Homo sapiens: one gene and its partner. The protein of the gene in region 1 interacts with the protein of each later gene in a biochemical or structural test. Each region holds a gene or a part of one and is shown on either strand. Other genes may lie near its edges.

What was found.
Region 2: the proteins of USP18 (region 1) and STAT2 form a complex in vitro, tested with the Homo sapiens proteins (one study listed by BioGRID).

Annotation. Positions count from the first base shown.
Region 1 is NC_000022.11:18,153,155-18,156,965, forward strand, and holds part of USP18 (ubl carboxyl-terminal hydrolase 18), read left to right. Parts: intron 1-3,811. UniProt on the Homo sapiens protein: Interferon-induced ISG15-specific protease that plays a crucial role for maintaining a proper balance of ISG15-conjugated proteins in cells. Regulates protein ISGylation by efficiently cleaving ISG15 conjugates linked via isopeptide bonds.
Region 2 is NC_000012.12:56,346,359-56,350,169, reverse strand, and holds part of STAT2 (signal transducer and activator of transcription 2), read left to right. Parts: coding exon 1-73; intron 74-533; coding exon 534-581; intron 582-660; coding exon 661-744; coding exon of another isoform or gene 745-798; exon of another isoform or gene 799-825; intron 826-908; coding exon 909-1,007; intron 1,008-1,086; coding exon of another isoform or gene 1,087-1,110; coding exon 1,111-1,246; intron 1,247-1,318; coding exon of another isoform or gene 1,319-1,365; coding exon 1,366-1,418; intron 1,419-1,546; coding exon 1,547-1,641; intron 1,642-2,967; coding exon of another isoform or gene 2,968-2,998; exon of another isoform or gene 2,999-3,185; intron 3,186-3,214; coding exon 3,215-3,351; intron 3,352-3,545; coding exon 3,546-3,728; intron 3,729-3,811. UniProt on the Homo sapiens protein: Signal transducer and activator of transcription that mediates signaling by type I interferons (IFN-alpha and IFN-beta).

The DNA of each region.
Region 1 (3,811 bases):
GCGGTGGCTCATGCCTGTAATCCCAGCACTTTGGGAGGCCGAGATGGGTGGATCACCTGAGGTCAGGAGTTCAAGACCAGCCTGGCCAACATGGTGAAACCCCGTCTCTACTAAAAATACAAAAATTAGCCATGCGTGGTGGCACATGCCTGTAGTTCCAACTATTTGGGACACTAAGGCAGGGGAAGTGCTTGAACTCGGGAGGCAGAGGTTGCAGTGAGCTGAGATTGTACCACTGCACTCCAGCCTGGGTAAAAAGAGTGAAATTCCATCTCAAAAAAAAAAAAGGAGACAGGGTCTTGCCCTGTTGCCCAGGCTGGAGTGCCGTGGCACGATCATAACTCACTGTGGCCTCAAATTCCTGGGCTCAACTGATTCTCCTGCCTCAGTCTCCCAAGTAGCTGGGACCACAAGTACATGCCACCATGCTAGGCTAATTTTATTTTTATTTTTAGAAAATAAAATATTTTTTATTTTATTTAGGCAACATGCTATGTTGCCTAGACTGGTCTTGAACTCCTGGCTTCAAGCTATCCTCTTGCCTCAGCCAACCAAAGTGCTGGGATTGCAGGTGTGAACTGCCATGCCTGGCTTTCTATTCTCTATTTCTAGGAGATAAGCTTTTTGAGCTTTCACATATGAGTGTGAACATGTGGTATTTATCTTTCTGTGCCTAGGTTATTCCACTTAACGTAATGTACTCCAGGCTCATCCATGTTGATGGGAATTACAGGATTTCATTCTCTTGTAATGGCTGAATAACATCCCATTTTGTGTATATAGTCCACATGTTCTTTATCCATTCCTCTTTTGATAGACACTTAGGTTGATTCCGTATCTCGGGTATTATGAGCAGTGCTGCAGTAAACATGAGAGTGCAAATATCTCTTCAACATACTGATTCCCTTTCCTTTGGATATATATTCAGCAGTGGCATTACTAGATCATGTGGTATATCTATTTTTAGGTTTTTAAGGAATCTCCATACTGTTTTCCATAATGGCTCTACTAATTTACATTCCCACCAATGATTTGGTTGAGTTTATTCCTCACTCTGAGCAGCATGTTAGCTGGACTTAAACCCCGTCCAGCTTGTCTACATCTGGCCCATCACTTGCCAGTGGGAAAGGCACTTACTTCTTTGTATCTCAGTTTTCTCATCTGTCAAATGGAAATATAACAGTAATTAATTCACATGGCTGTGTAAGGATAAATAAGACAGTACATATAAAAGGCTTTCACCTTTTATAAGAAATAGTGCTTCGATGTTACCCATTATTATTATTTTATTTCATCTTATTTATTTATTTAGATACAAGGTCTCATTTGTTGCCCAGGCTGGAGTGTAGTGGCACAATCATAGTTCAGTGCAGCCTCAAACTCCTGGCCTCAAGTGATCCTCCTCCTTCACCCTTCTCAGTATTTGGGGCCACAGGCGTGCACCACTATGACCATCTAAATTTTTTTTTAGAGATGGGGTCTCAGTATGTTGCCCGGGCTAGTCTTGAACTCCTGGGCTCAAGTGATCCTCCCACCTCAGCCTCCCAAACTGCTGGGATTACAGGCCTGAGCCACCATGCCAGGCCTCATCTCTATATCTTTAGGGTTAGTCACTGGCACCTTAATTTGTTCATTTGGTGATGTCATGTTTCTCTGATTGACCTTGATCCTTATGGCTGTGTGTCAATGTCTGTGCATTGACATAGGTACCTAAGCCAGTCTTCATTGCCTGGCTTTGTTTGGGCTCGTCTTTCATCAGGAAACCCATAGGAGATTAGGGAGAGGCTGATTGGTCAGGACCCTAAGCCCATGACTGCTTCAGCTGTTGTAGTGCTGGGGGGTGCTCTAAGCCCAGCATCACTGTGGTTGGAATTCTTTGGCCACTGAGGCTGACACAGCCCTGGGTTATGCCTGAAGGCCATAGCTGCCGAGACTGGCACAGCACTGGGGCACGCCCAAGACCCACAGCTGTGATGGCGTGCTTGCTGCTGCTGAAGTTATTCAGGGCCCAGGGCCACTGTAGTTGTCAGGTAGTGATGTGGGCCAGATCGCCAGTCCCTGTTACTGGGGCTGTGGGTTCTCATCTGGCACTAGGGTGGGGTGAGATCTGCCTGTGGGTACTGGTCTAGTATCAGGGTGATGAGGCTCTGCCCAGTACTGGGTTTTACTGTAGTGAGCCTAGTCCTGGTGACAGGTGACAGCGTGCTGGCAGCCATCACAGCCCTCGCTCGCTCTCGGTGCCTCCTCGGCCTTGGCGCCCACTCTGGCCACGCTTGAGGAGCCCTTCAGCCCACCGCTGCACTGTGGGAGCCCCTTCCTGGGCTGGCCGAGGCTGGAGTGGGCTCCCTTAGCTTGCGGGGAGGTGTGGAGGGAGAGGCAGGGGCGGGAACTGGGGCTGCACGCGGTGCTTGTGGGCCAGCGCGAGTTCCGAGTGGGCGTGGGCTCGGCGGGCCCGCACTCGGAGCGGCCAGCCGGCCGGCCTGCAAGCCCCAGGCAGTAAGGGGCTTAGCACTTGGGCCAGCAGCTGCTGTGCTCGATTTCTCGCCGGGCCTTAGCTGCCTCCTGGCAGGGCAGGGCTCGGGACCTGTAGCCCGCCATGCCTGAGCCTCCCCACCCCGCAGCCATGGGCTCCTGTGCGGACCAAGCCTCCCCGACCAGCGCCGCTCCCGGCTCCACGCCGCCGAGTCCCACCGACCACCCAAGGGCTGAGGAGTGCGGGCGCACGGCGCGGGACTGGCAGGCAGCTCCACCTGCGGCCCAGGTGTGGGATCCACTGGGTGAAGCCAGCTGGGCTCCTGAGTCTGGTGGGGACTTGGAGAATCTTTATGTCTAGCTAAGGGATTGTAAATATACCAATCGGCACTCTGTATCTAGCTCAAGGTTTGTAAACACACCAATCAGCACCCTGTGTCTAGCTCAGGGTTTGTGAATGCACCAGTCGACCCTCTGAATCTAGCTACTCTGGTGGGGACTTGGAGAACCTTTGTGTCCACACTCTGTATCTAGCTAATCTAGTGGGGACGTGGAGACGTTTTGTGTCTAGCTCAGGGATTGTAAACACACCCATCAGCACCCTGTCAAAACGGACCAATCAGCTCTCTGTAAAACAGACCAATTGGCTGTCTATAAAATGGACCAATCAGCAGGATGTGGGTGGGGCCAGATAAGAGAATAAAAGCAGGCTGCCCGAGCCAGCAGTGGCAACCTGGTCAGGTTTCCTTCCATGCTGTGGAAGCTTTGTTGTTTCATTCTTTGCAGTAAGTCTTGCTACTGCTCACTCTTTGGGTCCACACTGCCTTTATGAACTGTAACACTCACCGCGAAGGTCTGTAGCTTCACTCCTGAAGCCAGCAAGACCACAAACCAACCAGGAGGGACTAACAACTCCAGACGCGCTGCCTTAAGAGCTGTAACACTCACCGTGAAGGTCCGCAGCTTCGCTCCTGAAGCCAGCGACACCACGAACCCACCGGGAGGAACGGACATCTCCAGATGCGCCGTATTAGGAGCTGTAACACTCACCGCGAAGGTCTGCAGCTTCACTCCTGAGCTAGCGAGACCACAAACCCACCAGAAGGAAGAAACTCCGAACACATCCGAACATCAGAAGGAATAAACTGCGGACATGCCCCCTTTAAGAACTGTAACACTCACTGCGAGGGTCCACGGCTTCATTCTTGAAGTCAGTGAGACCAAGCACCCACCAATTCCGGACACACTGGGTTCCAAGGCGAAGTACTCCACTTACCTCTTCTTCCCCCAAGCAAACAGTGTCTCTCTTCACACAGCTGTGCTGGGTTGGGGGAGGGTA
Region 2 (3,811 bases), on another chromosome or scaffold:
GACTTCAAACCAGAAAACTTTGACCCCCGAGAAGGGGCAGAGTCAGGGTTTGATTTGGGACTTTGGTTACCTGGTAAGAATAGTTTGTGACCTATGCTTTTATTACTATTTTTATTTTTTTGAGACGGAGTCTCACTCTGTCCCCCAGGCTGGAGTGCAGTGGTGCCATCTTGGCTCACAGCAACCTCCGCCTCCCGGGTTCAAGCAATTCTTCTGTCTCAGCCTCCTGAGTAGCTGAGACTATAGGCACACACCACCATGCCCGGCTAATTTTTGTATTTTTAGTAGAGATAGGGTTTCACCATATTGGTCGGGCTGGTCTCGAACTCCTGACCTCAGGTGATCCACCCGCCTCAGCCTCCCAAAGTGCTGGGATCACAGGCATGAGCCACCATAGCTGGCCTGCTTTTAGTCCAAAGGAACAGGGGTTGGGGGAAGTTCCCAGGGCTTGAGAGGTCTTGAAGCCAAACAGGGGTTCCAGGGACACTAGGGTGCCCACTCTGGCATTTTCTCTCCTTCCCTTCAATTCACAGACTCTGGTGGAGCAACGTTCAGGTGGTTCAGGAAAGGGCAGCAATAAGGTGAGATCTGGACAGAGGACTCGAGGCAGGGGGAGCTTGCCAAAGAGCCTTCTGATGACTATGTCTTTGGCTGTCCCAGGGGCCACTAGGTGTGACAGAGGAACTGCACATCATCAGCTTCACGGTCAAATATACCTACCAGGGTCTGAAGCAGGAGCTGAAAGTGAGTGAAAATGGAGGGCAAGGAGAGAGAAAGCAGCTTTGGAAGAAGGCATAAGAAGGGGATAAACAGAAGCCTCTTGGGGTGGGTTAGCACTCCTTTCCTCTAACAAATACCTGCAGCTAGAAACATCACATCCCTCTCTGTGACTCCTGTCTTCTCCCCAGACGGACACCCTCCCTGTGGTGATTATTTCCAACATGAACCAGCTCTCAATTGCCTGGGCTTCAGTTCTCTGGTTCAATTTGCTCAGCCCAAACCTTCAGGTAGGGGAGTGGGGCCGACAGGTCAAGGCGCGAGAGGAGGGGTGTGGAAGCTTGGTGTGATAGGTTGCTTCTGAGCCAGCCTACACTGCTCCCACCCCTGCAGAACCAGCAGTTCTTCTCCAACCCCCCCAAGGCCCCCTGGAGCTTGCTGGGCCCTGCTCTCAGTTGGCAGTTCTCCTCCTATGTTGGCCGAGGCCTCAACTCAGACCAGCTGAGCATGCTGAGAAACAAGCTGTTCGGTACAGATTTCCTTTTCTCTCAGCCTTTCCCCAGCCTTAGTCTTTTCTGTCCCTCTGTCCTATCTATCCCAGGACCCCTGGCTTCCCTCATCATCTGTCTGTGGCTATCTGTCCCACAGGGCAGAACTGTAGGACTGAGGATCCATTATTGTCCTGGGCTGACTTCACTAAGGTAACTCCCTGAATCCTGTGGAGCTGCTGGATCTAGCCCACATTCCAAATACTGGCCTTCCCACGTCCCTCCTTCCCTACACCAGAGGCAACTCCTCAGCTTTTGCTACCTTTCCATTCCTCCTCCAGCGAGAGAGCCCTCCTGGCAAGTTACCATTCTGGACATGGCTGGACAAAATTCTGGAGTTGGTACATGACCACCTGAAGGATCTCTGGAATGATGGGTAAGGCCTTGGTCACCCTTCCCTCATGGGCTTGTGCTTTCCGGGCTTGAGAGTGGAGTCTCTGCACCCTCACGTGGCAAGCAGGGAGAGAGAGCAAAGACAGGTGCAGGCCACGTCTCCTCACATTTGTTAACAATAATAAGGCCGGGTGTGGTGGCTCACACCTGTAATCCCAGCACTTTGGGAGGCCGAGGCGGGCGGATCATGAGGTCAGGAGATCGAGACCATCCTGGCTAACACGGTGAAACCCCGTCTCTACTAAAAATACAAAAAATTAGCCGGGCGTGGTGGCAGACACCTGTAGTCCCAGCTACTCAGGAGGCTGAGGCAGGAAAATGGCGTGAACCTGGGAGATGGAGCTTGCAGTGAGCCGAGATTGCGTCACTGCCCTCCAGCCTGGGTGACGAGCAAGACTCCGTCTCAAAAAAAAAAAAAAAAAAACAACCAATAATAGCCATAAACAGTGTTTGTGAAGCATCTCCTACATTCCAGAGCTTGATGGGTGCTCTTCATTAATTCTCTCATCTCATCCTTACAACCATGCTGAGTGGTGGGTTTTGCCAGCTTCATTTCATGTGAGGAAACTGAGTTTCAGAGAAGTTAAAGAACTTACCCAAGGGACACAGTTGATATTCAAATCCAGGCCTATGTGACTCCAAGCCCATGCTCTTTCCACCACACTGCCTACCAACTTGTGTAGCATTTGGCTTTTAAAAGTGCTATTCATGACCAGGCACGATGGCTCACGCCTGTAATCCCAGCATTTTGGGAGGCCGAGGTGGGTGGATCACCTGAGGTCAGGAGTTTGAGACCAGCCTGGCCAACATGGCGAAACCCCATCTCTATTAAAAATACAAAAATTAGCCGGGTGTGGTGGTGGGCGCCTGTAATCCCAGCTACTCAGGAGGCTGAGGCAGGAGAATCGCTTGAACCCAGGAGAGAAGGTTACAGTGAGCCAAGATCGTGCCATTGCACTCCAGCCTGGGTGACAGAGCAAGACTCTGTCTCAAAACAAAACCAAAAAAAAGTGCTATTTGTGGCCAGGCGTGGTTGCTCATGCCTGTAATCCTAGCATTTTGGGAGGCTGAGGAGTACAGATCACTTGAGCCCAGGAGTTCAAAACTACCCTGGGCCACGTGGTGAAACCCCGTCTCTACGAAAAATACAAAAGTTAGCCAGGCATGGTGGTGTGCACCTGTGGTCCCAGCTACTCTGGAGGCTGAGAGGTGGGAAGATTGCTTGAGCCCGGGAGGTCGAGGTGGCAGTGAGCTGTGATCATGCCACTATTCTCCAGCCTGGGTGACAGAATGACACCCTGTCTCCCAGAAAAAAAAAAAAGTGCTGTTCATCTGTGTGATCTCACTGAATCTTCGTACTTCAAACCCTCGGAAGGTGGCTATTGTCAGCAAAGTGAAGTGACTTGTAAAAGATAAAAAAAAGCTAAGTGGCAGGGCTTGGTCCAAAGCCTGGATTCCAAACCTGGGCTGTTTCTCCATACAAGGGGAGCAGGGAGGCAGGGGCCTGGTGGGGCAGGGTGTTGGGCGGTGTCTCACAGCTGCTCTCTGTGCTCCAGACGCATCATGGGCTTTGTGAGTCGGAGCCAGGAGCGCCGGCTGCTGAAGAAGACCATGTCTGGCACCTTTCTACTGCGCTTCAGTGAATCGTCAGAAGGGGGCATTACCTGCTCCTGGGTGGAGCACCAGGATGATGGTCAGCTGCTCTGCCCTGCCATTCCCACAGCCTCTCCTTTCTGCCTGGCTCCCCTCTTGCCCCTCTGCCTGCCCTTGGCTTCCCTGGCTCTGAACTGAATCCCTCAGCTGGTTTGGGACTGGGCAGCCAGAGCAGAGAGCTCCAAGGCCCGGCCTCTTCCCTCAAGCCCGCCTGTTCCTGCATTCACTCTCCAGACAAGGTGCTCATCTACTCTGTGCAACCGTACACGAAGGAGGTGCTGCAGTCACTCCCGCTGACTGAAATCATCCGCCATTACCAGTTGCTCACTGAGGAGAATATACCTGAAAACCCACTGCGCTTCCTCTATCCCCGAATCCCCCGGGATGAAGCTTTTGGGTGCTACTACCAGGAGAAAGGTGGGAATCGTTGACATACTTCATTGCTAGATTGCAGAGATCTACCAGACATCCATAGATCCCACTCCTTCCTTTAAAGCATG